Homo sapiens: one gene and its partners. The protein of the gene in region 2 interacts with the protein of the main gene of each other region in a biochemical or structural test. Each region holds a gene or a part of one and is shown on either strand. Other genes may lie near its edges. The genes, in order: NEDD9, LYN, FASLG and PLCG2.

The links.
Region 1: the proteins of LYN (region 2) and NEDD9 form a complex in vitro, tested with the Homo sapiens proteins (one study listed by BioGRID).
Region 3: the proteins of LYN (region 2) and FASLG form a complex in vitro, tested with the Homo sapiens proteins (2 studies listed by BioGRID, with this or other methods).
Region 4: the proteins of LYN (region 2) and PLCG2 form a complex in vitro, tested with the Homo sapiens proteins (one study listed by BioGRID).

What each region holds. Positions count from the first base shown.
Region 1 is NC_000006.12:11,208,300-11,216,081, forward strand, and holds part of NEDD9 (enhancer of filamentation 1), read right to left. Parts: intron 5,429-7,782; coding exon 4,982-5,428; intron 1-4,981. UniProt on the Homo sapiens protein: Scaffolding protein which plays a central coordinating role for tyrosine-kinase-based signaling related to cell adhesion. As a focal adhesion protein, plays a role in embryonic fibroblast migration.
Region 2 is NC_000008.11:55,994,548-56,002,329, reverse strand, and holds part of LYN (tyrosine-protein kinase Lyn), read right to left. Parts: intron 3,985-7,782; coding exon 3,831-3,984; intron 2,913-3,830; coding exon 2,781-2,912; intron 1-2,780. UniProt on the Homo sapiens protein: Non-receptor tyrosine-protein kinase that transmits signals from cell surface receptors and plays an important role in the regulation of innate and adaptive immune responses, hematopoiesis, responses to growth factors and cytokines, integrin signaling, but also responses to DNA damage and genotoxic agents.
Region 3 is NC_000001.11:172,661,523-172,667,578, reverse strand, and holds the end of FASLG (tumor necrosis factor ligand superfamily member 6), read right to left. Parts: intron 3,246-6,056; coding exon 3,189-3,245; intron 1,958-3,188; coding exon 1,563-1,957; 3' UTR 703-1,562; downstream 1-702. UniProt on the Homo sapiens protein: Cytokine that binds to TNFRSF6/FAS, a receptor that transduces the apoptotic signal into cells. Involved in cytotoxic T-cell-mediated apoptosis, natural killer cell-mediated apoptosis and in T-cell development.
Region 4 is NC_000016.10:81,774,061-81,782,796, reverse strand, and holds the start of PLCG2 (1-phosphatidylinositol 4,5-bisphosphate phosphodiesterase gamma-2), read right to left. Parts: upstream 3,507-8,736; 5' UTR 3,373-3,506; intron 1-3,372. UniProt on the Homo sapiens protein: The production of the second messenger molecules diacylglycerol (DAG) and inositol 1,4,5-trisphosphate (IP3) is mediated by activated phosphatidylinositol-specific phospholipase C enzymes. It is a crucial enzyme in transmembrane signaling.

The DNA of each region.
Region 1 (7,782 bases), on a different chromosome or scaffold from region 2:
CTCATGCTTTGCATCAAGGTGCTCATTGATTGTATATGAATAGTTACCCTTACAGGACACAGGCAGTGACATTCTGGAAGGTCCTTCAGCGAGGGAAATGACTGTATATAATCTGACACCTCTCATACCAGATGGTAATGAGCTGAACCATGGGATTCGAGCAGCAGCGTGTGAGGGTGGATGTGTGATAAGATCAGAACCACCTTTCAGTTAATTAAAGGTTAACTCTCATTTAACACTTTGATTCTTGCTTCCACCTGTTCATTGGTTCACTGGGCTGCTATCTGTGGGCTGATGCTCTACCAAGTGCTCAGCCTACAGCAGTCAGGAGGCAGCCATGGCCCCTGTGCTGATGGAGCTTGTAATTTAGCCCCAAACTGATCTTCAGAAAGAGGTACAACAAATAGTTCCAGCAGTTAGAATAAAAGCGACACATCCAAAGAAAAATCAGAGAAGCACATATAATTTCCCATGCAGATCAACTGTGAAATGGATGAACTCAGGTAGCAATTTCACTGATCTTTGAAGCAGAGAAATGAGACTATTTTAGATCTTTTTAGGCTTTTGGTTTTGAACATTTGTAGATTTCATTTACCCCAAACCATAATCCCATATTAAGTAGAATTTTTGCTGTTAAAAATTGAAAACTTTTTTTCTTCCTTTATAATTCAGTTTTTCAAATTATTCGACTATGAGTAACTTATTTAATTTAGGATTGCCTGTGGGTTCTTGGCAACCATGATGCATATTTAGAAATCTTTGCAAAGTGAGAAAAATATAACCTACATACTGTTTTCTAATATGATGAAATAGTTATAAGCCCTAAATAAAACAATTAATGGGGCAGACATGATATGGTTTCCTAGACATTGACCTAAATGTTTATTAATTTCTATTTTGCAGTTTTTGTGTTTCATATTTTGGAGTCAAAAGATCTTTTATTCAGCTCCCAAACATTCTTATAGGCACTGGGCATATTGCCTACAACGCCTAATGGATAAAACGGCCCTGTGCACAAAACACAGAGTGAAAAAGACCAATGAAATTAAGTAAAGGTGTCAGCGTATATGGTTTTCAGATAACTTGGAGAGTTTTTTTCCACCCTTTGCAGAATTCTTGCAGAACCAAAGAGAAAGCCACACACTCAAAAAACACAGCATATGTGTTAGCAAGAAAGCACTTGTACCTTCGGTGTGTCGTAAGAAACACAACAGGGCTGATGTAGTAGGAAATAAACTCTGAGAAAGGAAACGCAAGGTGAGAGGAATGCATTCTTTTAAGCCCCTGCCATGCTAAGCACTGAGCCAGGGACTTTCTATGTATGCTTCTGTTTAATTCTCACGACAGCCTATGAAGTAGTTAGTATCATTCCCATTAAACAGATGAAGAAACCAAGGCGTAGAGATGGTCAGTAACTTACCAAAGGATATACAGCTATGGAGAAACAACCCAGCATCAGCTGAACCCTGAAGGCCTTACTCTCTCCACAATTCTCACACTGTCTGCTTGTTTCCTAAAAGGGTGGGGATTTTATGACTATATTTCTTTCTCTAAATGCTGATTTAATATGTGATGAATGTCAGTTAGTGTGGAGGGGATGCAAGAGGGTGGGTAGAGGTTGGAGTTTCCAAGAGAGCAAAGTTGAAGTGATAGAAGGCAGAATTCACTGTCTTTTTTTTTTCCTTAAGTGATTCATTAGTAGAAAAAAGCAGTGCTGGGTAAAACTTCGGAAGCCCACAGTCTGTAGCAATATCAAGGGAATTTTGAACTATGGAAAGTCCCAAATCATAATCAGATTGGAGCATGTCCCAGCCCCTTCATGGTCCCTTTACAGTGTTTCTCAAAGTCTAGTCCTAGGCCACCACCCACAAAACTATGCAAGGAGCTCAATAAGATGCAGATTCCTGGGCCCCCAACCAGACCTACTGGATTAATTTCTCTGAGGGAAAGACCTGGGAATCTGCATTTAAACTCACTGCCCTACCTCTCTGGGTGATTCTATGCCCATTAACATTTTTAAACCCCACCCCGGTGGCTCAGAATAAGATTCCACTGCCTCCTTATTTTCTTATTCAAGAGCTTTTAAAGACCATAGCTTAAACTACCAGGCATATCTAGTTCTGGGCTCATATTATCTTACAGATGAAAAATTTAAAGAGAAAATGAGCAAATTGCTTTATTAAGCCAGTCAGTAAAACTACTAAAATGCAAACTCAGAAAAATGAAAAAGCCACGCCTGATCCCCAGTGTGCTGGGATTATCTCTTAGGGCCTAGGCTTAAGTCATTAGAATGATTCCCACCCACTGAGAATATCCTATACCCAGGAAGATGTTGACAGATGTTTTTTAAAGCAGTTGCAATTGCCTGGAAGGCTAAAATCACCTCCTAGCAGCTAAGCCATCTCCACTATGAAAGAAAGGAAGGAAGGGAGGAAGGGAGGGAGAGGGAAGGAGGGAGGGATGGGGGGAGAGAGAGAGAGAGAGAGAGAGAGATAGAAAAGAGAAGTGAGGAAGGGAGTGAAAAGAAAGGAAGAGGCAACCACACTCCCATGGATGTGAACCACTGCTCTGGGGTACATGGAGAGAGGCAGCCTAGAGACCCAGGATCAGGATACTGTGGAGAAGCCCTTGGTATTTGGCAGGGAAGGTGCCAGGGCCACCCTCTTGCCCTCCCCATCCTGGCCATGTCACTACCCCAGACCCTGACTGTGTGATGCTTTAGGCACGGCCTACTCTTCAGCCCTGGCTGCAACTCCTGGAAGGGCTGGCACAGGTCATTTTCAGAAGTTGATTTCCTCCTGCAGGACTCATCTACCTTTTGCTAAACAGAAAATGTTCTACTGAGTGTAGACTTAAAAAAAGCAAAACAAAACATGGAATGTGAGTGCCCGAGGGTCACCCCAGCACCCCAGCCCTTTGACATCAATCCAAGGGAAGATGAGTCCGTATCTCTGCCCTCTGGAAGGACGGGGAGCCATGGGGAAAGCCTGCAGGGCAGTCCCAGCAGATACAAGGGGAAGAAGTCTGAAGGCTTAGGCTTCTCTGACTTGGAGCTGAAAAGGTTGGGTCTAAAAAGGAAAACACGCTACCTTCCTGCCAAAGTCAACTGTGATGAAAGTTTAGAGCCCACCACCTCCCAGCCAAGCATTTCCTGCTCTGGCCTCCCCTTCTGCCTCACACTGGCTCAGATGTGGGAGAGCTATTTTTAAGGTGCAAACAACCAGGACTAAGAATGAGTGAAGTTACTTATTTATAGTTACACCTTTCAACTGTTATTTTTCCCCTCTGGAGATAGAAGCCAGGTTTTGTTTTCCCTTTGAATCTACAATTCCTAGGACAAGGAAGACTGAAAAGCCACAAGTCAGTTTATCACCTCTAGGCAGCATCGTTGTCGTGGGCAGTACAAGTCTAAAAGCTGTGCACCACCCTTGAGGAATCCCTCTTAACGAACCTACGCTCAGTTCATGCCACACGCGTGCTCTTGAGAAGTATTTTGTAAAACATACTTTTTATATCAAAGGTGATTTAAAAATGCATTAGTGCTTTGTTGTTTAAAGGAATCTACCCACACAGGGTCAGGGTCTGGGGTGGTGACATGGCCAGGATGGGGAGGGCAGGAGGGTGGCCCTGGCACCTCCCCAGCCAAACACTAAGGGCTCTCCACAGGGTCTCTAGGCTGCCTCTTTCCATGTACCCAAAAATGCATTAGTGCTTTCATTGTTTAAAGGAATCCTTTGTTTTTTCAACAGAGGATTCTAATACATCAAATAGATATTCCCTAATTTACAGAGGTTTGTAAAATCAGACTTCATATTAGATTTACTTGGGGCAGGACACATCTATAGTTAGTGTTCTAAGGGTCAACAAGCTCTTTCTGGTATGTAATTGCATCTTTCCTCTTGTAATTCAGGGATATCTTCTTATCCAGTTAAATTTGTTCATTCCTAATACCAAACCTTGTAGGACCCATTGGAATTTGCCAGCAAATGAAAGAGAAAATCCCTCCTTTGTGATGCTCACATAAGCATCACCTTGGTTGTGGGTGTTACCCCCGATCAGTCCACTGACATTATTTTCCTGATAACACGTGTCCCTACCTAGCATTCTCTTGGTTGCTTCTGTCTCCCCCACGGCAATGTAAGCATCACCAGGGCTTTGTTTATCTTTAATTAATCACTGTATCACAAGCATCAAAAATATATTAGATGCTCAACATTCATTGTTCAATTAGTGAATTTCTATTGACCTCAAATTGCTAAAGTATTTGGGATTACACAGGGTGTTGCAGAGCTCCCCACACTGTATTTTTAAATTAATTCCTTCCTAAATATCCAAGCTCCACTGTTTTCACCCACTGCCTCAGGCATTATTATAAGAATGACTTGAAGGACAGGAGGATGGCTTCATTCCAATTCCACTAGTATCTGTGCATTTTTAAATGAGTCAAACTAAGCTGATAACTCTATAGAACGAGTTGGTCAGCATGACATACTCCCAGCTTCCTCACTCTCGCTACTTTGGGTGGGTTCCTTGTCCAGCCAGGCCACTGAGGTCATGATTCAGCTTTTGGCCAAGGGAGGATCCTTGTTGCATCATCAGGCTTGTACGAGATTTGGTGTTTGTTCCACTCAATGAAGAAACAGAAAAGATAGGAAACGATCTGAGCACAGAGTGAAGGCTTAGAAGCTGATATATGAGAAAGATGGAGAGAAACAGTTTAATAACCCATGTAACCCAGGATGACACAGGAACTTAGGAGGGCTGGAAATCAACTGTACTCAGCACATGGTAGTTCAAAGAAGTTTTGCTGAATGATGGATGAATGGCAAAATCATGCAAACATGATGCCTGAGCTAAGGTATTGGTTATATCTACTTCTTGGCAGCTTCAAGTTATTAATTTGGGAACATTTCCAAATGCTCCAAGTGTAATGGGAAAAAAAAATAAGTAGGAACAAAAATTTAGTTAGTCATTTACTCACCTTTTTACCCACGTGGGGCCCACTGGTTCCCCCAATGCTTCTCTGCACTGATGGTGGCACCTGATATACCTCTTGTTCTTGGGTGCCGTGGCCAGTGGGGACTTGGTAAATTCCCTGATTTTGGTAGGAAGGTGGCACTTGGTAGATGGTGTCTCGGGGAGCAGCCTGTGGGTTTGGCACTTGATAGAGCTTCTGTTGGCCAAAGGTCTGCTGCATCAGTCCAGAGGCAGGCTGCTCGTGACTGGAGGCAGTCTCCTGCATGGGACCAATCAGAAGCTTCACCCGGTTGCCTGGGACAATGCCTTGCCGACCGTGTAATGAGCACAGCCACCATCCTTCCAGTCCCCCTGTGTTCTGCTCTATGACGGTCAGGATGTCTCCCTTGCGAAAGGCCAGTTCCTCGGCACACTCTGGGACATTGTCATATAAGGCCCTTGCCATAAGATTCTAGGAGGGAAGGAAGAGAAGGAAACCGTGTTAGAATATTGGGTCGGTCCCTTTATCACCTAAGGCCCGTGCTCTTATGGAAAGGCACACTTCCTGGAAAGAGAGAAGCATAAATCTGAACAATAGACTGTAAGGAGAAAAACAGATGGTGCAGACAAAAGACAGATACATATACACTGCATCTGCCACCAGTGACATCAGACTGCCTCCTTGGAAAAGCTCAAAACACCAGAAGAGTTCTTTCCTCTAGCAGGATATGCCGTGCCAAGGAATTATGAGTAGCAGTGTTACAGAGTTAGAGCATGGTTCACTATACAAAACATTTTTCTTCCTTTTTCAAAGTGAGCTTAAGGAAAAAAAAATCCCGAGATATTCAGATGTTCGACAATGAACATTTCTCAATATTGTTCTATATTGGAGGTGAAAAGAGTAAAAGAAAAATCCCAAATAACACACAGTACAAATAGCATTTATATTTGGAGTTGAAAAGCCAATAGAAGTACACATATATATGCCTTGGCAGGGCTTAGAAATTCTTGTTCTCAGATGACAGGAGCCTTGGATCCAGAGAGAATCCACAAGCAAGGCATGTAGACATGCCATCAAGCGTGGAGCATAGGCCAGCAGCCATATACATCTCCAGCTTTGACAACAAATTTATTAACACATAGGTGGATGCCAACTCTTCTCTCTCGGTCTTTTATGCATACCTTTCCTGAGGGCCCCTCCTCGCCCTCCCCTTTCGTCACCTACTTCTTGAATCTCACCATTCACATCAGAAAAGCTGTGCCTTCCCCTTTCATGGGCCCAACACACTCTCCGTCTTTGTATGAAGGCCTGTCTGGCACATTCAGTACTAAGCAGACAGCCAAAGTAGGCATTCAGCAGAGAGTGGGCAGGCAGTACGTGCTGACATTCTTGGAGGCCTTTCAAAGGCTCGGAAGATTTCATTTCTTGGCATTAGTAAAGTTTCCCAGCACGCGGGCAGCCATTCCCGCATGTCTGCCCCCTTCCCAGAGCACAGCGAAGTCGGGGACGTTGTTGATTCAGCACAAGCCCTCGGAACACTAAAAGTGAACTCTAATGCTTTGTTAAGATGTTTGGATGCACTTAATGTCATTGAGGTGGGGCTCATTTATGGAAGAAAGGATTACGGATTGGATGGGGCAGGTTCATGACTTTATTTTATACCATGACATATTCGTGGGATTTTCGGCTGTCATTGTCTGAGCTTTTGCTGTCTATTTTCTTCTCTAGCAACGTGGACTTGATCATTCAGCCTCGTGCTTTTCATTTCTTTGCAGCTGACTTGCACTACTCGCGTCCCCTTGTGCTAGCCCCATTGCCACGGGTCCTGTGTGTTTTCCGCTCTGGAGGGCTGTGCAATGGAAGGGATCTGCCCTCTATTCAGTAGTTGGGACGGGTCCAGTTCTGCTGCTGTGAGCCAGGTTCCTCTTAGCCAGGGCAATTAAAAGAGATAAAGCCATAGAGGACAGTCCTCAGGAAGCTTTGTGATACTCTTCAAGAATAAGGTTGAAGTCCTTTTTCTTGACAGTTATGAGATCCAGGAAGTGTGAGACACAGAGAGGTGAGCGGCCAGGGAAGCTAAAGGGAAACTGAGGAGTGCATATTTCAGGGGAAGGTTTCACTGGGTAGTTAATATTCCAGGAGGCGCTGGGTTTCATCTAACAATGAAAAGTTCACATACATAAAGAAAAAATCAGGCAGCAGTTTCCCCTGTTCATGGAACCATTTAAGGATGGTGTCATAATCCTAAAATTGTCTCTGTTTCTCTTCTCCCATCTTTTGGGTATTCTGTATTTTACAAGAGAAGTCATAGAGTTACAGAGGACAAGATTCTGGTCCTTTTACTAAAATGACCTCCAGGAAATGACTCCACCAGAGCTGTACTGAGATTATTAAGTGAGGAGATAGCTGACCACTCTGGCCTCTGTCTGTCCCTTTCTTCTGGGCCCATTCAGCAATCGGGAAGCCCCCACATGAAATCAGAAGCAACAGAGTCGGGCTAGTTGTATGGGAGCTGAGGGTTGGTAGCTGTGCAATTATACTGGCTACAAAGAAGGGAAAGAAGAGAAACAGAAAACAGTAGAAAGGCAAAGGGCTACAGATCTAATCAGCATAAATCAGCTCAAGGCATTCGGAATTGGGCCACTTCCAACTCCAAGAGCACCATGAGGCACTGAAGTGGAGCACCGGAGCATGCTTGATCAGAGGCAGATAGAAATCCCCGTGCGAGAGTCGTCCTGGGCGTTCTTTGTCTCCTGCCCCAGTAACCTTCTTACCACCTGGTGAGCAGCTGGCTAATGTTTCTACACTGGCCTGTGAGCTGCTTC
Region 2 (7,782 bases):
CTCCTGCCCCAGCCTCCCGAGTAGCTGGGACTACAGGCGCCTGCCACCACGCCTGGCTAATTGTTTTTATTTTTAGTAGAGATGGGGTTTCACCATATTAGCCAGGATGGTCTTGATCTCCTGACCTTGTGATCCGCCCACAAAGTGGGCCTCCCAAAGTGCTGGGATTACAGGTGTGAGCCACTGCACCCAGCCTAATTTTTATATTTTTAGTAGAGATGGGGTTTTGCCATGTTGGCCAGGCTGGTCTCGAACTCCTGACCTCAGGTGATCCACCTGCCTCAGCCTCCCAAAGTGCTAGGATTACACGTGTGAGCTGCCGTGCCCAGCCAGTTCTTTTTTCAAAAAATGATTTTTCACCCCAAATATTTCCAAATCCTGGGCATTGTGCACATTGGCTGAGGGGTCTTGGGAGGCACATGGATCTGGGGCTCAGAGCAGCTTTGCCACCAGCGAGGGGCCCAATCACCTTCTCCAAGCCTCAGGGGCCATGGTAGCACATCACATGCAGCACACCACGCATATCACAAAACATTCTTTTATGAGATTGTATGTTTATCAGGTGTCAGATTATATACATAATCTGACTATATAATCTTTCTCTACAGACAGATTATAGAAAGAGATGTAGGCATAGATGGAGATAGAGATATATAACATCAGACACTGGGGCTGATTAGAAATATTTTTCCTATTTTGCAGCAATGTTAATTCATTAATCTCAGTGTCTAGAGCAGCTGGAAGATGAAATGCTGGCACTAAAGGGATTTCCTGGGACAGCCGGTCCACTGTGCAGGCAGACACCACCCAAAGGCTTTCAGCTGCCAACTGGTCCCTGCCCCAGTTTCTCTGTGGCTCATCCCCACATGAAACAGTAGTGATGGGAGCACGCAGACTGTGTGGCTGCTCTGTCCAAAAGCCTTCCCTGGTTTGCATCTCAGCAGAGTAAGAGGGGCTGCTCTTACATGGCCAGTAAGTCTCTCCCTGAGCCACTCTAACCCCCAGCTACATAGCCTTCTTTCTCATCCATCGACTGTCTAGAGATCAAATGGCCTAGGTGCGTCATTCATTCATTCATTCATTCACCCATCCATCCATCAAATACTCACAGAGGCCCAAACCACGCTGGCCTCCTGCTCCTGTTGGCCAAGCCCATGCTCTGGCTGCTCTCCCCATGGGGACATGCAGACCTCAGAGAGCCCAAGACTCCCTCCCTCTGTGAGTCCCTGCTGCTGCCAGGACCATGGAATAAAACCAGCAGCTCCCCACCCCCTTCTGTGAGTACTCGCCAATCCCTAAGCCACTCCACGCAGGCTCCACACTACTCTCACCACCCTACAGGATGGCTGTGTGTTTGATAAACATCAGTCTCTCCCCACTACAATATTCACTCTCAAGGACATGGGCAGATACCATGGCATCCTAGCAGCTGAGAGTGCCTAGCATACTCAAATATTTTTTGAATAGGAGAAAGATTTAAACATTAAAAATTTAATTTTAAATTCCCCTCATGCAAATATTTTGTTAATAGTCAAACATAAATGAAAATATGAAGGCTCTGGGAGAAATCCCTCTTTTTTTTTTTTTTTTTTTTTTTTTTTTGAGACAGAGTCTCACTCTGTCGCCATGGCTAGAGTGCAGGGGTGCAGTCTCGGCTCACTGCAACCTGTGCTTCCCAGGTTGAAGTGATTCTCCTGCCTCAGCCTCCCAAGTAGGTGGGATTACAGATGCCCACCACTACGCCCAGCTAATTTTTTGTATTTTTAGTAATGACGGGGTTTCACCATGTTGGCCAGGCTGGTCTCGAACTCCTGACCTCGTGATTCACCCACCTCAGCCTCCCAAAGTGCTGGGATTACAGGTGTAAGCCACTGCACCTGGCCGAAATCCCTCTTCTTAACCATGCCAGCACAGACCATGGAAAAATGGAGGGATGGTCAGAATCTGGCTCTGCAGGCTTCAGGTGTTAGGAATCTGGAAATAAATACTGAATGATGCCCTCACTGATACCAGTATGTTAAAGAGCAGAAGGGCCTCCCACTGATAAACAAAGGTGGTTATTTCTTGAAGAGAGAGAGACTCCAGGGCACTTATTACAAAACCAAGCATCGGAAATCCTTGTCTCCATGTGGGTTTCCTCCTTCCAGTCAGGGGGACTGCCTTGGAGGAGCCCCTGTGTCTATCCATCCTCATCTCGACACCAACAACCATGCCCGGAACATTCTAGTATGTGGTGGAATTAATCAGTGCAGAACAAGAACACACACTCAAAATAAGGAGGCAAAGAAGTGTCTAAGCACTCTTAGAACAATTTATGCTAAAGATAGTGAAAATAAAAATCAAGTCTTTTTTTTGTTTCGAGATGGAGTCTCACTCTGTCGTGTAGGCTGGAGTGGAATGGCGCGATCTCAGCTCACTGCAACCTCCACCTCCCGGGTTCAAGCAATTCTCCTGTCTCAGCCTCCCGAGTAGCTGGGATTACAGGCATGCGTCACCATGCCTGGCTAATTTTGTAATTTTAGTAGAGACGGGGTTTCTCCATGTTGGTCAGTCTGGTCTCCAACTCCCGACCTCAGGTGATCCACCTGCCTCGGCCTCCCAAAGTGCTGGGATTACAGGCGTGAGCCACCATGCCCAGCCCGTGAAAATCAAGTTCTGGCTCAAAGCACTTATTCTTTGCTATCGGGTAGATGAAGTAATTATTACTTTTTAATGCCTTCATGCAACCTGACTTTTTCTCATTTATACAGCTTGATTGTAAATAGCTAAGTAAACCATACCTGGGTAGGGAATTTTCCCATAGGTGACAATTTCGTATAGGAGGATTCCAAAGGACCACACATCAGACTTAATAGTGAAACATCCAAAGTTGATTGCTTCTGGAGCCGTCCACTTAATAGGGAACTTAGCACCTAAGGAAGAAGATATGTGGTTCTTACTTGGGTATTTAAACTTAAACAAAAAAGTCATGAACATGTGACCCCATACTTTCTTTTCTTTTCTTTTTTTGAGGCGGAGTTTCACTCTTGTCACCCAGGCTGGAATGTAATGATGCGATCTCGGCTCACTGCAACCTTCACCTCCCAGGTTCAAAATAATAAAATAATAATAATCCTTGTTCAACAATGCTTAGGAATTTCAAGAAAGTGCTTGTCTCTTCCAGAAGACAGTGAGCACTGCAAAAATATTTGCTCAGCTCTCGTGGGTGAGAGCATAAGAATCCTCAGTCATAACCACGTGGGCAATCCTAGCCCAAGAAAGGCCCTGCAGTCCCGACCATGCTTGGCCCCCTGACAATGTGCCACAGGCTGGGGAACTTAGGCCTCTCTGTGCATTTTTGGTTCATATATATAATACAGAATGTGGGAAAATAAAGAAGTAGATTTTTTGCATTATATTTAGTTCTGTGTGTATGGTAATGTTCATGTTTTAATTTGTAATTAAAAGGCTGGAATAAACAATATAGAATTAATGTTACAAATATTTTCTCCACAGCCCCGTATATTATATTCATTGTTTGAGTGAAAACTTTAACAATACAAAATAAACAAGAATCATCTTGCTGAATCTATTTGTGTTTTGCATTGCTTAATTGAAATACAACTGATAGCATTTGTAAGCCTAACAAAAGTATCATGTGGAGTTAATCAAGAGAGTACCTTCTAGAAACTATTAGAATAGAACCATAAGCAGACAATTATGGTACAGCTTAAATGTTGTACCAAATAAGTTTTTCTTAATGGTGACTATTGTAATTGCTTTGTCAAAAACAGACAAAAACAAAATAAAACACAATAATAAAACATCTAAAGATCATTAGTGCAACATACCTTCCCTTGCTGTGTACTCATTATCTTCAATTACTCTAGCAAGGCCAAAATCTGCAATTTTGCACATGAGTGACTCGGAGACCAGAACATTAGCTGCTCGCAGGTCCCGGTGAATGTAGTTCTTCCGCTCGATGTATGCCATTCCCTCTGCAATCTGAAAACAGAAATAGGCTCCCATTTTCATATGTAGGGTAGGTGACTGGAAAGTGCCATCAAGGAAAACCGGAAAACTTATGAATTCCTGAAATCTTTTCATGTATACTATTTTGATCATTCAGCTTTTAAAGACAGTGGGTAATGGCAATCACCATTTGAGCCCTTTCTAAAATAACTGACCACCCTCTGCCAAATCTCCAACAATGGTCATCTTAAAAAAAAAAAAAGGAACATGTCTTAACATTTTCTTTTTTTTTCTTGAGACGGAGTCTCGCTCTTTCACCCAGGCCGGAGTGCAGTGGCGCTATCTTGGCTCACTGCAAGCTCCACCTCCTGGGTTCACACCATTCTCCTGCCTCAGCCTCCCGAGTAGCTGGGACTACAGGCACCCACCACCATGCCCGGCTAATTTTTTGTATTTTTAGTAGAGACGGGGTTTCACCATGTTAGCCAGGATGGTCTCGATCTCCTGACCTCGTGATCCGCCCGCCTTGGCCTCCCAAAGTGCTGGGATTACAGGCGTGAGCCACCGCGCCTGGCCATGTCTTAACATTTTCTAATGTGTGAAGAATCTTTTCAAGACCCTGCTAAATTCATCCATGTAGATACATAGATGTTATTATGCCAGTTTCTCAAATCAGAAAACAGATGCTATGGTCTGAATGTTTGTGTCCCATTCCCCGCCCCCTACCCCAAAGTTCAAATGTTGCAATCCTGAACCCCGAGGCAATAGTATTAGGAGGCAGGGCCTTGGCAGGTGATTAGATCAGGACGGTGGAGCCCTCACGAATGGGATTAGTGCCCTTGTAAAAGAGACCCCAGAGAGCTGCCTTGCCCCTTCCACCACGTGAGGACACAGCTATATGGTGCCATCTATGAACCAGGAAATGGCCCCTCATCAGACATGAAACCTGCCAGGGCTTTCCTTGCCCCTAAACTGTGGGAAATAAATGTCTCTCGTTTAAGCCACCCAGTCTATGGAATTTTATTATGGCAGCCTGAACCAACTATGAAAATAGAGTTGGAGAAAGTGACATGCTAATACAAATAAATTATTAAGGTATCAAGAACAGGATGTCGTTTCTGTCAGGTTAATCAACAGCCCATGGAACTGGCTCTCCAAGTTCTCTCTGCACATTCCCTCCAGGACAATCACAAAGATTCACTCTTTTTTTTTTTTTTTTGAGACAGTCTCACTGTCTCCCCCAGGCTGGAGTGCAGTAGCATGATCTCAGCTCACTGCAACCTCCCGCCTCCTAGGTTCAAGTGATTCTCCTTCCTCAGCCTCCCGAGTAGCTGGGATTACAGGCACGCACCACCATGCCTGGCGAATTTTTGTATTTTTAGTACAGACGGGGTTTCACCATGCTAGTTTTTGTATTTTTAGTAGAGATGGGGTTTCATCAGGCTGGTCTCAAATTCCTGGCCTCAGGTGATCCACTCACCTCAGCCTCCCAAAGTGCTGAAATTACAGGCATGAGCCACCACGCCCGGCAAGATTCACTCTCATGACAAAGTATGACAGCAGGAAAGAATCCAGGATTTAAACACAACAATAACATAGGGAGGCAAAACTACTACTCGTTGCTGAATAGAAAGTGTAGTATCGTTCCAAAGTCAGGTTTTTAAGGAAGACATTACCAAATTATAAAGTTAAGGAGAAGGAAGGAAGAAAGGAAAGGAAGGAGGGAAGGAAGGATGGAAGAAAGCAAGCAAGGAAAGAAGGAAGGAACAAGGAAATGAAGGAAGGAAGGAAACAAGGAGAGAGGAGGAAAGGAGGGAAGTAAGAAGCAAGAAAAAGGGCAAGAAGTAAAGAAAGCCAAGTAGTAGTTTATCTGGTAAGCAGTTAGAGAAAACTCTGATTCGAATTTTTCACACAGGAATGAATGTATTCTGCCAGATTCTACCTTGAATTGCAGGTGGCTCGGCTTGGAGGATCTGACTTTCCCCAGTCATCTGCAACAGTATCCCTGGTAATCAAGCACTTCAGGCCGCCAGTTCCAGACCACGTTGCTTAGCAAAAGATTAGCTCCTTGGTATTGGGTCTGCCTTTGCTTCCCCTCTAGGCCAATCCCTGGCCTCACCTTCTGCCCCGTGGGCCTTCCCTGAACTCCCCTTTACTCACCCTAGATGGTCAATGTGTACAAAAACCATCTGCAGCTGCTGATCACAGCTTTGTCATTATTTTTATGCTGTTTAATGCTCTCAGTGGTGTCATGTTAGCCAGTTGATAAACACCTCTAGGGCTGAAAATATCTTTTCTATTCTCACTTGTATACATTGGAGCCTTCAAACTTGTCACCAAACCTCTTATCAGAGACAAAGTAAGTCCTTTGGGAAATGGGCTGGGGTTTTCACATGACCAGAATACTATCTTGTTAGCCCACTACTACAGGGATTTGGCAGATGATATTCTCATGGTCACAAAAATCTCAAGTAAAATAATCAGTGTGGCCTACATCAGTCTCAAAGACTATTCAGTCCAGTATTTCACTTCCGAGTGGAAACAAAGAATGTGGTCCAAGCTCCTTTGCACTGCTGCCAAGGCCCCGTATGACCCGGCCCCGGCTCAGCCCTCCACCTCCTCACCACGACCCCCTCCTTTGTGCTTCTACACCCCCTGCCTCTGTGTGGAACGCTCATTCCCTCCCTGCCCCTTTCACCCGACCTATGCAGTTTGCCTGTCTCAGCTGAGATTTTACTTCTCCCGGAAGCCATGCCTGGCATACCCTCTCCTGCCAGGTGTGCATGCATCCCCAGTGCTCCCTGCTCCTCACCTGACTACCTGTCCACAATTTCTGCAGGAACATGAACCCATCCCAGCACTGAGCACAGCACAGCACTAAGCACAGCAGGAGGCTTCATTTCATGAGGGACTTGAGAAGTGGGACAGAGGCTGAGTGGAGCAGAAACCAGACGGACAGTAGGAAAAGGACAGGGCAGGTTTGGAGAGCAGTGACTTCGTGTCCCCTGCCTTTCTCCCAACTGTCACAAACCCTGAGCACTGGGGAGATGCACAGCTTTTACCTGACCCTGGAAAAGATTCAAACAGCCTTGATGGGAAGTCAACAGAAGGTGGGCAGTGGTGATAACCAGGTGAAGGCAGAGCTCCTGAGTCTGACTTTCTCTAGGAAGCCTCTGCTGCCCAGAAACAGCAGGCAGTGGCATGGTGAGGGCGTCAGGAAGTTCAGGATAGCTCCTTCTAGAGTGGGCACTACTGAAACAGATGACACGGGGTGGCAATTTTGGTGGCGGCTGGGAGAGAGGAGCCCTGCCTCTGTTTCCTTTTGTCTGCTGGTAACCCAAGTTCAACAAGACTTGTTAGAAAAAGCCAGTAAAACTGGGAAAAGTGGAGAGCGAAGATCAGGCTGAGCATGTGTGAAAGAAAGGAGTGTACGATTATAACACAGTAGGCTTTTGGCGATAGAACCACGATGCCTGGCTCAAACAGACCAGAGTTGGTTACAGGAGCCCAGATGAGACAGCAGCAATTGAGCGGTCATAGCTGACTCTGTCCCAGCCTCCCGGCTCCACTCCATGGTAGTGCAGCCTTTAAAAATTCTTAGCTCTTAGACACTTATCTACCTAACATTCCAATAATTATATATAAACTGGGCCAAGAACCCAAAGAAGCCAAAGCTGGCTGAAGTCCCAAATTGGGCCTGAAACCACAGTTGACAATAGCAACCAGGAACCTGTGCTGCCCCTCTCCCAACGCTGTTGATCGGCCACACAGGTGGGCATGATGGCAGGGACCCAGCCTCCCACACAGCAGCAAGGACACACGTGATGATCA
Region 3 (6,056 bases), on a different chromosome or scaffold from region 2:
GGACCAATTCCGCTGGAATAATAGAAGATGATGTTGTGAAAATAAGACACCTAAAATCAAATTCCAAAGGAGTTACTATAATTTTTAATGATAACAAAGTCTAGGGAGAGCCCATGATAGTGAGTGGTTGAAGAAAATAGGAAAAGGCCGTTGTGAATGACAAGCATGAGAATACAAGAAACCAGGTGCTTAGATGGATCCCACAGATCAGTGGCCTCTGGAGAATGAAGTGGCTCTAATAGAGTGGCTTAGTAGTGGCAGACACTATTTTTTGATGTTCTATGTGTCTGATACTTTCAGCTCTTTTTTTGTTCAAGGAAGGTCAAGTGACCTAACCAGTGCTTACATAGGCAGTACGTGGAAGAACAAAGATTCAAATCTAAGTTTTTTAGTCCAAAATATGTGCCCTTTCCACTGTGCCATGGTTCTGCCTTCAGGAAAATATAATTTCTCATCAAATCTATGGAAAGTTGGCTAAGCTTAACATTGGTCATAATATTGGTAATGGAAACTCTGGGAGGTGAAGAGGAAAGAGAATATATAGAGAGAAGGAAGGCCTAGCAAAGGCAGAAAGATTTGATTCATAGTTCTTCTCACTCCAGTAAATTATTCTTAAAAGTGGTCTGATATCATAATGAATGAAGAAATCAAGGAGGAAAGAAATAATAAGCAAAAAATTCAAATATTAGTAAATTCTAAAAATTATTTGTATCCTAACATATACTTTTTATTACATGTTTTCATTTCACAAAAATGCACATCTACATAAATATTTATTATATTATAGGAAAACATCATTAGTAGCTGACAATCAATGATTTTTAAGCACTATTAGAGTTGATTGTCAGGAAGCATTCAAAATCTTGACCAAATGCAACCCATATTTTCCTAATATGTACTTCACAATATCTACATTCTCTCTTTAGTCATACACACACACACACACACACACACACACACACCCCTACAATTGCACTGGAAATACACATGCTGTGTTAGGAATGAAATGAGTCCCCAAAACATCTCTCTTGCTTATCTGTTAGTTTCACCGATGGCTCAGGATATGCATTTAGAAGTGAAGATGCTGCCAGTGGGGCATTGGCCTCTTTCAGCCTCTTTAGCTTATTATGCAAGCCTCTAGTCTTCCTTTTCCATCCCTTAAATCCTCAGGTCACAACCATGTATCTGAAAGACAGTCCCCCTTGAGGTAGCAAGGCCCACCTTGAGAGGTGAGTTAAAAGGTGTCCTTTTCAATCTGCCTAAATACTCTCAGGCACTAAGATGAGTGTAGAACACCTGGTAGCTGCTTTTTCATGCTTCTCCCTCTTCACATGGCAGCCCAGAGTTCTATGTTCTTCCGTCATATTCCTCCATTTGTCTGGCTCATAAACATTAGGTGAGTTGAGGAGCTACAGACATTTTGAACCCTGTGGTCTCAAGGTCCACTTGGTTCATGTCTTCTTACTTGACCTCAAATGCATGTAAGAAGACCCTCACTGAATACAACATTCTCGGTGCCTGTAACAAAGAATCATAATGGAAAGAATCCCAAAGTGCTTCTCTTAGAGCTTATATAAGCCGAAAAACGTCTGAGATTCCTCAAAATTGACCAGAGAGAGCTCAGATACGTTGACATATAAATGATCAGCACTGGTAAGATTGAACACTGCCCCCAGGTAGCTGCTGCGGGCCCACATCTGCCCAGTAGTGCAGTAGCTCATCATCTTCCCCTCCATCATCACCAGATCCTGGGGATACTTAGAGTTCCTCATGTAGACCTTGTGGCTCAGGGGCAGGTTGTTGCAAGATTGACCCCGGAAGTATACTTTGGAATATACAAAGTACAGCCCAGTTTCATTGATCACAAGGCCACCCTTCTTATACTTCACTCCAGAAAGCAGGACAATTCCATAGGTGTCTTCCCATTCCAGAGGCATGGACCTTGAGTTGGACTTGCCTGAAATAAATCCAAAAGGAGCTTTCAACAAGGAATAGTCATGCATCCAACAAACTAAGTTTCTAAGGCAAAACTGTGGGCCCTTCCTTCAACAAATGTTTCACCCAGAATGACAGCTGGTATAGAACTGGCTGAGGGGTCAGAACTTGATCCATCACAGAATTTCCTCAACAACGTTGTCCTATTTTGTCATCCACACAATTGGAACAATAGTATATACCCGTAATCCATTGCAGTAAGAAATTATTGAGAAAATATTTGCTCTCTGGAACAAAGATTTTACTATCTTCAGAACTAGCACCAAATCTGCTAGGCTTTGAAGTCCTTTCCTGAAGGAAAAAGCCAAATCCAAGGAACTCTAAAGTTCTAAAGTTGGGAAGGATCTTAGGGACCATCTGGTCCATCTTCTCACCTGCAGTAAGAATTATTCAGCCCCTCAATTTGGGGTACAGTTCCCTTTTCTTTGTATCCCCACAACATCATGAACATAACCTAAATCTCTGAAGTACTGAAATTATCATAAGTGCCTGTCTTTCCCTATTAGATGTCAAGCTCCCTGGGGGCAAGAGCCATGTGCTACTCATCTTCACATCCCCAAATTGGCACACAGCAGGTATTCAGTAAGTGTCTGCTGATGTGACCGGATCATTCTATAATTTCTGCCTAAATAATTCCAGGGACAATAGCCTACCACTTTCTGTGATATTTATTCCATTATTTATGTAGTTTATAATGGGAGTGCCCATACCATATCATTTCACTCCACTTTACAGGCACATATTGAAACTCTACAAGTGCCAGGATTGAGTCTCCCTTCTCACTCCTATTTATACTCTTGGACAAAGCAGAGTGAAGCTCTTCCAGAAAACCAAGAAAGCACTGACTAAAATAAGTCCTCATTCCTCACCTTCTCATCTCTCACCTCTTGGATCTGTGCCCCCAATCCCCCAAGGGACTTTGGAATGACTGAAAAGAATGAGCTTCTTATGGGCAGGGGTCATGTCATAATCAGCTCCAGGTCTCCAATTTAGAAGAGGGCCTTGCCCAGAGAATAGGGGATCAAAGTGTGTTCATAAGACTGACTCGACAAGAAAAGTGTTAGTATTATTGGGTTCAAATACTGTCTCCAGGAAGTAACAACTCTCTAGAGCCTGGTAATGGAAACCAGGCAGCCATTTTGCCTTTTGCCAAAAGCTTTCCCAAATCTCACCTGTACCTTCCAGATACAGACCTGTTAAATGGGCCACTTTCCTCAGCTCCTTTTTTTCAGGGGGTGGACTGGGGTGGCCTGTATCATAGAGAGAGGAAAAATATATGTTAAAATGAAATAGCAACTATTATTTTGGTGGGAATTTAAATCCAATCATTTTAAAAAAAAGATTTTAAAACCGTAAATGGCAACAGTCTAACATATACTAATCATGTAGGTCTGAACTGCAGGATTCATAGTAGTCTATATTTCAGAAACAAAGAGGTAAAAAAATAAACCAAATTAAGATTGACATATGTATAAATTATAATGTTACAATAAAACATAATTAATATAAACATTTATTCATAAAGAGCTGTCATGTCAGTTATTGCATTTAGAACTCACCACAACCCTTTGAGGTAGGTATTATTGTCCCACCTTATCGATTGCAAAATGAGCTTAGAAGTTGGGTGACTAATCCAAGAAGACCCAGCTAGTCAGCATCACAGATGGGACCACACCCTGCTCTCCTGACGCCAATTCCAGGGCTCTGTCCACTCTGATTCTCTTGTTCCAAAGACTTACAGGACAGAGGCTGAAGAAGACTACTGATCTGTCTGCGTGTCACCAGATCTTCCCCCAGTGACATTTTACAATCTGCCCCAAATTAATTATCTTAAGACCTCTGACAATCACCTCATATCACTGAGTCCTCAAACACCTTTAATTGCTCCTCCCCGAAGATGCCGTCGTATACAAGTATCCCCATCACACAATCCCAGCCCATCTGTCCAGCCTTATCTCCTTACTCCCACTGAGCATTGCCACACAACGGGAGTTCTGTGGCCTACACATACCCCCACTTTCCTTCCTCTGTGCCTTTGTTCATGCCATGTCTTCTGCCCGTAATGTTCTTTCAAGCAGATTTCTGTGTCAAATTCCTAAACATCCCATAAGGACTACCTATTACCGCTTTCTTTGGGAAACCCTCTCAAGCCTTTTTTGATCAAATATGATCTGCCCCTCTTTTGAAATCTAGGATCCCTCTGTCTTCCCCTCTCTTGTCATTTCTGACTCCTCTTGTCTCTGGGGTAACTACATAAATTATCTTATTCCCCTCAAATAACGACAAGTTCCTTACGATACGTTGAGTTCACCAGAGAAGCCCAGTTTCTAACACAGGGCATGTTACTAGCAAATGTTGGACAAATTAAATGGAAGGATAGACAATAGTTCTCAAAACAGACACTATTTCTCTGACTTCAACTGTTTCAGACAAGATAGACAGCTGCCACTTAGCTAATGAATTCAGCTAACTGAGACTTCAATAAATATTCACAGGAGATGCTTGTCTATGTCAGGTTCGTGATTAGCCTGTAAAACTCACATATGGTATGAGAATGGCCCAATCCACAGAGAACATTAGCTGAGCAATCATGACCTCTCTAGTCATCCAAGACAACCCACCATGTAGGAGGTGTTAGCGAACAGGAAAGGCAAAACTGAGTCTCCTCTGCATTCCTACACCGCAAACCACCCGAGCAACTAATCTGGCACTCAGCCACGCACCGGCAGGAAACGGAACAGAGAACCACATGTTGCATGTCTTTATATCCCTCACAGAGCCTAGTACAACGTTATTCTTACAGAACATGCTCACTAAGAATATCTGCTGTACCTATACTGGAATAAATAAATTGCAAGGATATCCTAGACACTGGTTATGAGTGCTTCCTGCCCCAGGGTTTTTGCATGTGCCGTTCCCAGCGCTGAAATGCCCGCCCCCAGCCCCACCCCACTCCACAGCACATGCACACAGCCGTTCACTCATCGGGCTTCTGACCCCCAAGGTGTTAGCGTAAACAACACCTCCTTAAAGAAGATTCTCAGGTTGTACTTAGTACAACTTTGGAATTGCATGGTCTGTTTGCTTGCTTTTGTTTAGCTTCTTCCCCCTGCTAAAAGCTCCATAAGGACAGGCCCCCTGGGCTGGCTCATCCTCAATCAGCATCCAACACCCAACATCTAGCCTCACACATGTGAATGAATAAAAGATTTAATTAGTTAACCGGAAAAAAATGGAAAATGTAAAAAGGAGCAAATTAGAAAGTATAAATAATCTATAATAGTATCTCCCAGAGAAAATCACTGTTAGTATGTCAGTGTGTAAAACTTTCCAGTTCCTAAGAATATAAAAATGTGCATACATGGTTACATAGTCAGTATGAAACTAAACATACCCTTTTGTAACTTGTCTTTTTATCTAACAATACAGAGTGCACAATCCCCAAAGCATTAAATGTCCTTCTGATACATCACTTTTAGTTGCTGCTTATTATGTGCTTGTCTGAATACACCATAATGTATATAACTAATCTCGTATGAGGCATTCAAGTTTCTTCTGAATTATTTATTATAAATAGGCTCATAAGGAAGTAATGAACATCCTTATATATAAATCTTCGGGCACATCTCTGATTATTTTCTTAAGATAAATTCTTAGCGATAGGATTACAACGTAAACTACTAGTTACAAGCTTTTGCTATGTATTTCTAAAGCGCTCTTCAAAAAAAGTTATAGCAATTTACATGTATACTGGCTGAAACTAATGTTTGCACAGGCACTTTTCTCTCAAATCTTTGTCAGTCTGGGTTTTTTTTTAATCTTTATTAATTTGATGAAAATTGGTATTCCCTATTTTTAATTTGCATCTCTTTTCTTATTAGTAAAGTTACTGATTTGATTTCCATGTGATGATTTACCAATTTCTGGTTTATTTGGGTTGATCTAGAGAACATAATTGCTTACTGGGGTAGATGGATCTGACTCACCTGATCATTTGACTTTTAATCACTAAATTGACTCCAGAGAGTGGGTGAAAGATGAATAATTAGATACCTATCAGA
Region 4 (8,736 bases), on a different chromosome or scaffold from region 2:
TACCACTCAAGTATTTGCCTGTGCCCCATTTTAACAGAATCGTTTTGTGGGATTTTGGATGAAATCCTGTACTGGCTTAACATGCACAGAGCACTGAAGAGAAAAACTTCCTTGATTTCTGGTTTGGGGTTCTTGTATCTCACGAAATGCCCTTCTAAATAAGCTTGTGAGATACAAGAACATGAATGAGCTTATGAGATGCAATTGGAAACAGATCTTCACGGCCAAAAGATCCCTGGAGTCCACCATTCAAATCCTGCCAGCACCCAGCTCAGGTCTCCAGCGTTCCACGCTTTATCAACTATGGCAGGGAGGTCTCCAAGACCTTGAGCCCAGGAGAGAGCACCAGCCACCACAGCAACTTCCATTTTGCTTCTGCTTTTTTTGGTTTTTTCAAAAAAAGAAAAAAAAAAGCCTTGAAATCCCTTTTTTGTTCCTGTTTCCCATTCTTAATGGGTAATTCTATAAAATGACTTATTTTGTAAATACAAATATGGCTGAGTTTGAATAACTGATTTTTGCCATTTTTACATTTCATGTCCTTCTAAAGGTTTTTCTTGTATCTCATAAGCTCATTCATGTTCTTGTATCTCATAAGCTTATTTAGAAAGGCATAAAATGGGCCAGGCACGGTGGCTTATGACTGTAATTCCAGCACTTTGGGAGGCCGAGGTGGGCGGATCATGAGGTCAGGAGATCAAGACCATCCTGGCTAACACGATGAAACCCCGTCTCTACTAAAAAAAAATACAAAACAATTAGCCGGGTGTGGTGGCACATGCCTGTAATCCCAGCTACTCGTGAGGCTGAGGCAGGAGAAAGGCGTGAACCCGGGAGGCGGAGCTTGCAGTGAGCCGAGATCGCGCCACTGCACTCCAGCCTGGGCGACAGAGCAAGACTCCGTCTCGGGGGCGGGCGGGGGGGGGGGGGGAAAGGACATGAAATGAGATGCGAGGACCCAAAACCAGAAATCAAGGAAGTTTTTGTCTCTTCAGTGCTCTGTGCATGGTAAGCCAGTACAGGATTTCATCCAAAAATCCCACAAGACAATTGTGTTAAAATGGAGCACAGGCAAATACTTGAGTGGTAAGGGCCCCTCCAACAGTTCAAGGGACATTACTGCTGCACCTTACACCCACCCTGCAGCATTAGAGGGAATACACTATTTTCAAAGGAATGGTGTCAGCCACTGCAAGTGAGAGTGTAAATTCCACCCCTGCTCCTTTAGGGCAACCTGTGAGCAGCTACTAAAAAGCAAAACACGCATATGCTTCGATCCTGCAATTGTACATGTAAAGAAAGACATGCACAAAGATGCAATATGTACGACAGAAAATCACGGAAGCAATAGTTGCAATAGAAATACAAAAAAAGAAAAAAAAACAGAAAACAACTGCTCATCAATGTGGGGGGCCTCCTGGATAAATAATGGTGCACATGCACTGAAGAACGCTCAGTAGCCATCAGAAAGAATGAGGATGATAGATAAGCAATTTGATCTGGAAAGATTTGTGAGGTCAATAAAAAAATAGCTTCAGACAATAGTTGCAACTGTATGAGTATAATACAATTCCCTTTTTATAAAGGTGATCTTCTGGTAAATCCAGGAGAGTGGTTACTATTTATCGGAGGCTGGGAGAGGGTAGAGGATACAACTTGACTTTATTTATATTAACTGATGATGTAACGGGCAAATTTTTCTCTTTGTGTTCTTGCTGTTTTCTAAATTAAGAAGTGTTTGTGTGTGTTTGTTTGTTTGTTTGTTTGTCTTGAGATGGAGTCTCTCTTGTCACCCAGGCTGGAGTGCAGTGGCATGATCTGGGTTCACTGCAACCTCCACCTCCTGGGTTCAAGTGATTCTCCTGCCTCAGCCTCCTGGGTAGCTGGGATTACAGGCGGCCACCACCACGCCCAGGTAATTTTTGTAGTTTTAGTAGAGATGGGGTTTCACCATGTTGGTGAGGCTGGTCTGGAACGCTTGACCTCAAGTGATCAGCCCAGCTCGGCCTCCCAAAGTGCTGGGATTACAGGTGTGAGCCACCGTGCCTGACCAAGAAATGTTTTCAAAAGTTTTCTCACCAGCAGCTTTTCATTGACTCTACCCAATGAGTGCAAAAGGGCTATTCATGGGGTCTGTGCTTTTCCACTTCCAGAGGAACTGCCCATACTCCAGTCGCTGGTGGGGGAAGGCAGCTGCATCATTAGGTGACTTAAACATCAGTGAGGCTCACAATGACGATTGTCCCTGAGCTGGTATACACGTGACTGCACACACACCTTTGCAAGAGAAACTGCTTGAGGCTGGCATAGACTTCAAAATTCTGTAAAACTTCCCCGCAGAACTGTAGTCAAGGACGAGGGCCCATGCCCCAGAGAATGCCCTTGAACCAGAGAGTCAGGAACTGCCCAAGGACTCTCCATGGATGCGCCCCGATTCTCAGCGAACCTCGTGGAACAGCAATAAGCCCCAATTCTCGACACAGCCCTGGAAAATTGGGTGGCTCCAGTATCCAGAGGGGGAAACAGACTCAAAAAGGTTCTTCAACTTGCCCAGGGTCCCACTGATGGAACTGAAATTCAAATTAAGTTCCGACGGGCAAGGCCACCTGTTTCCCTCGCGCCATGTCACCCCTTTACCACCCCGCCCCCCATAGTTTCTCACCCTAGTTCAAGATTAGGGTACCAAGAGAGCCCCGCCCCACCGTCCTGCTGGAATCCAGGAGCTCCCCGTCCAAACGGGGCACGTCTTTAACCTGAACTCTTGCGCTGTGCGGGTAATGCCCTCTTTGGGATTCCAAAACACAACAAAACACAACACGCACAGACACACGCATAATTACGCAGACAGCTGCGGAGCGGGCATCGCGAGTGTCCTGCAAGCTCTCCAAAAGTCTCCGGGAAGGACTGCGCCTCCCGCGGTATCGCTCCCACCCGCCACCCGCAACCACCGAAGTGAGACAGGGAAGTGTGGCTCCGAGCGTCCGCGAGCTCTGGGCACAAGGGCCGTCAAGAGAGACGGCGCCACCCCACGCAGAGCCGCTCGAAAAGAGGAGTTTTGAACGCCAGCCCCCACACGACCCCTGACCTTCCTCCCGGTCCCCATTCAAAGCTGGGGCCGCCCCACCGCACGGACCGGAGAGGTGGCGCCGGCCCGGGGTGAGGAAGTGGCCAGCGGCTGGGCCAGGATCCCTGCCGTCACCAAACGGACCCCGGGCACGGCGGGCCGGGGTCCCCGAGGGTGCGCCCCGTCCCTGCCCGCTCCGGCTGAGCCAGGACGCAGACCCCCTCGGACGCAGCGCCCTGGGAGCCGGTCCCCGCGGGGCGCAGGTCCCTGGGCGCCCTGCCTGCCTCGCTCCCGGCCGGGCAGCTCACCTGGCCGTGCCGCCCGGGCACAGCTGCCCGCCTGCCCCGGGTTTGGGCTCCGGGGTCCCGCGCGCGCAGCCCGCGTCCCGACTCGGGTCACTCAGCGCCGCTCACGCCCTCCGCCGCCGGCGCTCGCTACTTCTGCTTCGGCCGCGGCGCCGCGCCACGTGATCCTCGGGGGCCGCCCCCCGCACCGCCCAGCCTCGCCCCGCCTCGCCCCGCCCCAGGCGCGCCCAGCCGGGTCCGCCTCTCGGAGCGCACCCCGAGTGCAGCGTCCCCGCGCCCTCCCCGCCATGGAGCGGCCCAGGCCTGGAGCCCCGCCTCTGCGTGCCAAAGAAGAAACTGAGGCAACCCGAGGGGAGGCTACCTGCCCGAGGCCACTTGGCCAGGTGCAAAGGGAATTCCCCAATATCATGGCATTCCTGGAGAGCCGGCCGCAGTCCAGGTGTTTGCCGTATACTTAACACACTCCCGGCCGGGCGCCCGGGCTCACGCCTGTCATCCCAGCTCTTTGGGAAGCCTAGACGGGAGGATCGTCTGAGCTCGAGAGTTCGAGACAGCAATGAGCTAGGATGGGTGTGGCCGAGAGACACTCCGTCTCAAAAATAAATAAATAAAAATTAAAAATAAATATACTCTTCACAATTACCCGCCAGGAATTGCCAATTCATGGCCCTAATTTGAAGCCCTCGTTGAGGCTGCGCTGGAGTCAGACCAACCCTTACTGCTACCTTAGGCAGACCACTTAAAAACCGACAGCCTCAGTTTCCCCATCTGTAAAACGTGATCAACATAGTGCCAGCCCCAAAGGGAGTCAGGAGCAAAGAACCCCAGACAATTGATGTCCCGTTTTCCTGATCTCATGGGAAGAAGCTAATATGTTCTTTAAGAAATTTATTTTTCCGTTCGTGTGTTGCATGAAGCTATCTGATTCAAACCCTTCCTATGCTCTTTGATGGAGGTATCTTTGTTGTGACTAGAGGCAGTTTCAGGGGCACCTAGACAGCTGTCAGGCACTTGAATTTCACTTCCAAGTTGCTTGAGTTATAGCTTCTGTTTTCTAAGAGGCAGGGTCTCACTCTGTCACCCAGGCTGGAGTGCAGTGGTGCCATCATAGCTCACCACATCCTCGAACTCCGGGACTCAAGCGATCCTCCTGCTTCTGCCTCCTGAAGAGCTGGGACTATAGAGGCACACCACACTTGGCTAATTTTCTCTTTTTTCGACATGAGGTCTCACTATGTGTCCCAGGCTGTTCTTGAACTCCTGACCTCAAGCAATCCTCCTGCCTCTACCTCCCAAAGCACTGGGATCACAGGCATGTGCCACTGGTCTGTTATAGCGTTTTTTTTGTGTGTGTGTGTTTTTGGTTTTTTTTGTTTTTTTTTTTGTTTTTTTTTTGTTTTTTTTTTTTTTTGAGACAAAGTCTTGCTCTCTTGCCCAGGCTGGAGTGCAGTGGCACGATCTCGGCTCACTGCAACCTCCACCTCCCAGGTTTAAGCGATTCTCCTGCCTCAGCCTCCTGAGTAGCTGGGATTATAGGTGTATGCCATCATGCTTGGCTAATTTTTTGTATTTTTACTAGAGACGCGGTTTCACTATGTTGGCCAGATTGGTCTCAAACTCCTGACCTCAAGTGATCCACCCACCTTGGCCTCCCAAAGTGCTGGGATTACAGGCATGAGCCACTGCACCCGGCCTGTTATAGCGTTTTTTAATTGAGGAATATCACTCTCACTGTCAATGTTGTATCCCAAGCCATAGGACTCGTTTGTGACTTCACAAGATCTGTGGATTCATTTCTTTCAGCACTCCCAACTGGCGTGTATAGCTGTGCTCATCACCACAGATCACTTAACACATCAATTTTTTAAAGAGATCTTGGAAGGACTCATTATGACATCAACCACTTGAAGTCATTGGGCCAATTCCCCAGGAAAAATGACTACATCTAGGGGCAATTCCTTTGCCTCACTTTTTTTTTTTTTTTTTTTTTAGAACTTCAGCTTGTATTTATTTCAACCAATCTTTTTCACACTTTTGTTTTAGTATGTGTTATATAAAGTACATAATATATTAGTTCAGTCATATATATGTATAATTTATTATTACAAAGTCTACATGGATAGGGGAGTGGGTTAAGTCTCTTGATGGCAAAATGAGATTGCATATAATCAGAATGTGTGGAGACCACTCTAGGGAGCCGTGGCTCCTAAAAGCCTATCTTGACAGATGCCAATTCTGGCTGGATTTTTCTCTCATCTGTGGGAAGCAAGCAAAAAAATAAGAACATGAAGAACAGGTTTCTCTGTTTAATCTATGCCTGTGAGCCTATAGTATTTTTGAGTTAAAATGTCCACTGTGTGTGAGATAATGGTCATCGTAAATGGCAGTTTGCTTTTTTTTCTTTCATGTTTTTAATTCATTTTCTTCTTTGGCTCATTTTTTGCTAACCAACCCCTAGCCCAACCCCACCCCCCAGGTGAACGACTGAAGGAATCAGTGGATTGAAAGAGAGTACTGGAGGCCCTTCATCTCTTTCTCAAACTCTAACTTGGTTGTTCAAAATAAAAATAATCTGCCAGGTGCAGTGGCTCATACCTGTAATCCCAGCACTTTGGGAGGCCAAGGCAGGCGGCTTACCTGAGATCAGGAGTTCACGACTATCCTGGCCAACATGGTAAAACACCCTCTCTACTAAAAATACAAAAATTACCCAGGCATGGTGGCACACACCTGTAGTGTCAGCTACTCACGAGTCTGAGGTAGCAGAATCGTTTGAACCCAGAAGGCAGAGGTTGCAGTGAGCCAAGATGGTGCCACTGCACTCCAGCATAGGTGATAGATCAAGACTCCATCTCAGAATTAACAATCGTCGTCATCATCAAGGCGGCAGGCGCTGTTCTGGGAGGACTCTAATGTAAAATGACACTTCTTTTCCCAAGGATAATAGGTGGGGAAGGAACCATTCTGTGTATTCTTTCTTTTCCATGGAATAAAATAGGTAGGGAAAGAAACCACTCTGAGCCGGGCGCGGTGGCTCACGCCTGTAATCCCAGCACCCTGGGAGGCTGAGGCGGGCGGATCACGAGGTTGGAAGATCAAGACCATCCTGCTTAACATGGTGAAAACCCGTCTCTACTGAAAATACAAAAACATTAGCCTGGCCTGGTGGTGGGTGCCTATAATCCCACCTACTCAGGAGGCTGAGGCAGGAGAATGGCCTGAACCCAGGAGGTGGAGCTTGCAGTGAGCCGAGATTGTACCACTGCACTCTAGCCTGGGCAACAGAGTGAGACTCCGTCAAAAAAAACAAAAAAGAAAGAAGGAAAAAAAGAAAGAAAGAGAGAGAGAGAGAGAAAGAAACCACTCTGTGGGTTCAGACATATGAGGTAGAAAGGCCCTGTCACAGGTTAGCTGTCAGAGGGCTAGAGTGGGTTAAGTCAGTGGGTGGTGGGGGCTGGATTTGAACCTCAGCCTGTCTGGTGTCAGAGCCCATGGGCATGCTGACCTGCCACCCATCCCCAGATTAATAAGAGGCATTCAGGCAGGGAGATGTGAGTTTGTAACCACTCTACATAGATGCACAAATGGGTCAGGAAGTGACCTCAAAGGGTAGAGGGATCTTTCTTTTCCTTTTCCTACAAAAGAAAGAAAAAGGGAAGTGGATAGGTAAGAAAGAATAACCTGAAAGAAAATTACATTTTAAGCTGAATCATCTTGACTCTTTGTATTCTGTGTTGCTCACCAGTCCTTGGGCATACAAATGCTTTTCCCTATTACCCTCTTCTCTTTGCTGGCAGCCATGGTGCATTGGACCATTAGCCTCTCTGGGTATCAGTTTCCTCATTATTATACCTATGGGTATCAGAAATGTACCTACATCTGAGGGGGACTGTGAGATGAGGGAGGTAAAGCCCTCATCCCCATGGGGCAAAACCAAGGCTGACTATTTTAGGAATTGTTACTGGGAAGAAGAAGACCTCCTGTGAAAGCATGAACTTGGAAACAAGGAATCTGGGCTCCAGTTCCAAGTCTGCCCCTTCCTTAGTTTTATGGCTGTGGGCTGCTCAGCCACCCTCTTTGGACTTAATTTCCCCATCATAAGACCCACCTATAGCATATGCAGAATTAGCAAATCTACAGAGACAGAACGTAGATCAGTGGTTGCCAAGGACCAGGAAAGCAGAGAGCGGGCCTATCGGAAGGTAAAAGATAAGGGGTACAGGGCTGCTCTTTGGGATGATAAGAATGTTCTAAAATGGATTGTGACGATGGCTGCTCAGCTCTGTGAATGTGCTGAAGCCTCTGTACTGTACACTTTACATGCATGAGTTGCATGGGATGTGAATTATATCTCAAGAAAGCTGTTTTGAAAAATATCTGTGGACTGGGCACATTGGCTCATACCTGTAATCTCAGCTATTTGGGAGGCTAAGGAGGGTGGACCACTTGAGCCCAGGAGTTCAAGACTAGCCTGGACAACATGATGAGACCTCCATCTCTACAAAAAACTTTAAAAATTAGCCAGGCCTGGTGGAGTGAGCCTGAGTCACAGCTACTCGGGAAGCTGAGGCAAGAGGATCACTTAAGCCCAGGAGGCAGAGGTTGCAGGCAGTGAGCCGAGATCATGTGCCACTGCATTCCAGCCTGGGCAACAGAGTAAGACCCTGACCAAAAAAAAAAAAACACCCTTAGAGGGTTATTTCAAACCCAGACCTCCTTTCCCCTCCTCCACCACCACCTCCAAAGGCAGTGACCAGGCTGAGGTCCACCGCCCTGCCCCAGGGAACCTCGCCAACCCTACCCCTCTACCCCCACAGCCAAAATGACCAGAAAACCCCCTGGAGCCCTTGAGTCTAGTTTCCTTTCCCAACATTGTTCAGAGAAGCACACATCCGTGGCGACGAGCCGAGTCCCAGCTGCTGGCTGGCAGGCCTCTGTGAGAGGAAGTACCACCCAGAATGGGCTTTCAATGGGGTTAGGCCTCACTGCTTCTGGAGGTAGGGGAGGGCAGACCCCTCTGCTATTTAAATTGTGGCCAGCTTGGTGGAGCCCCCGGTTTAATGGTTTTGTGGGTTTTGTTTTGTTTTGTTTTTTTTACTGCCCAGGCTGGAGTGCAGTGGTTGGATCTCAGCTCACTGCAACCTCTGCCTCCTGGGCTCAAGTGATTCTTGTGCCTTAGCCTCCTGAGTAGTTGGGACTACAGGCGTGCATCACCACGCCTGGCTTTTTTTTTTTTTTTTTTTTTTTTTTGTATTTTTAGTAGAGACGGGATTTCACCGTGTTACCCAGGCTGATCTCAAACTCCTGAGCTCTGGCAGTCCACCCACCTCAGCTTCCCAAAGTGCTAGGATTACAGGCATAAGTCAC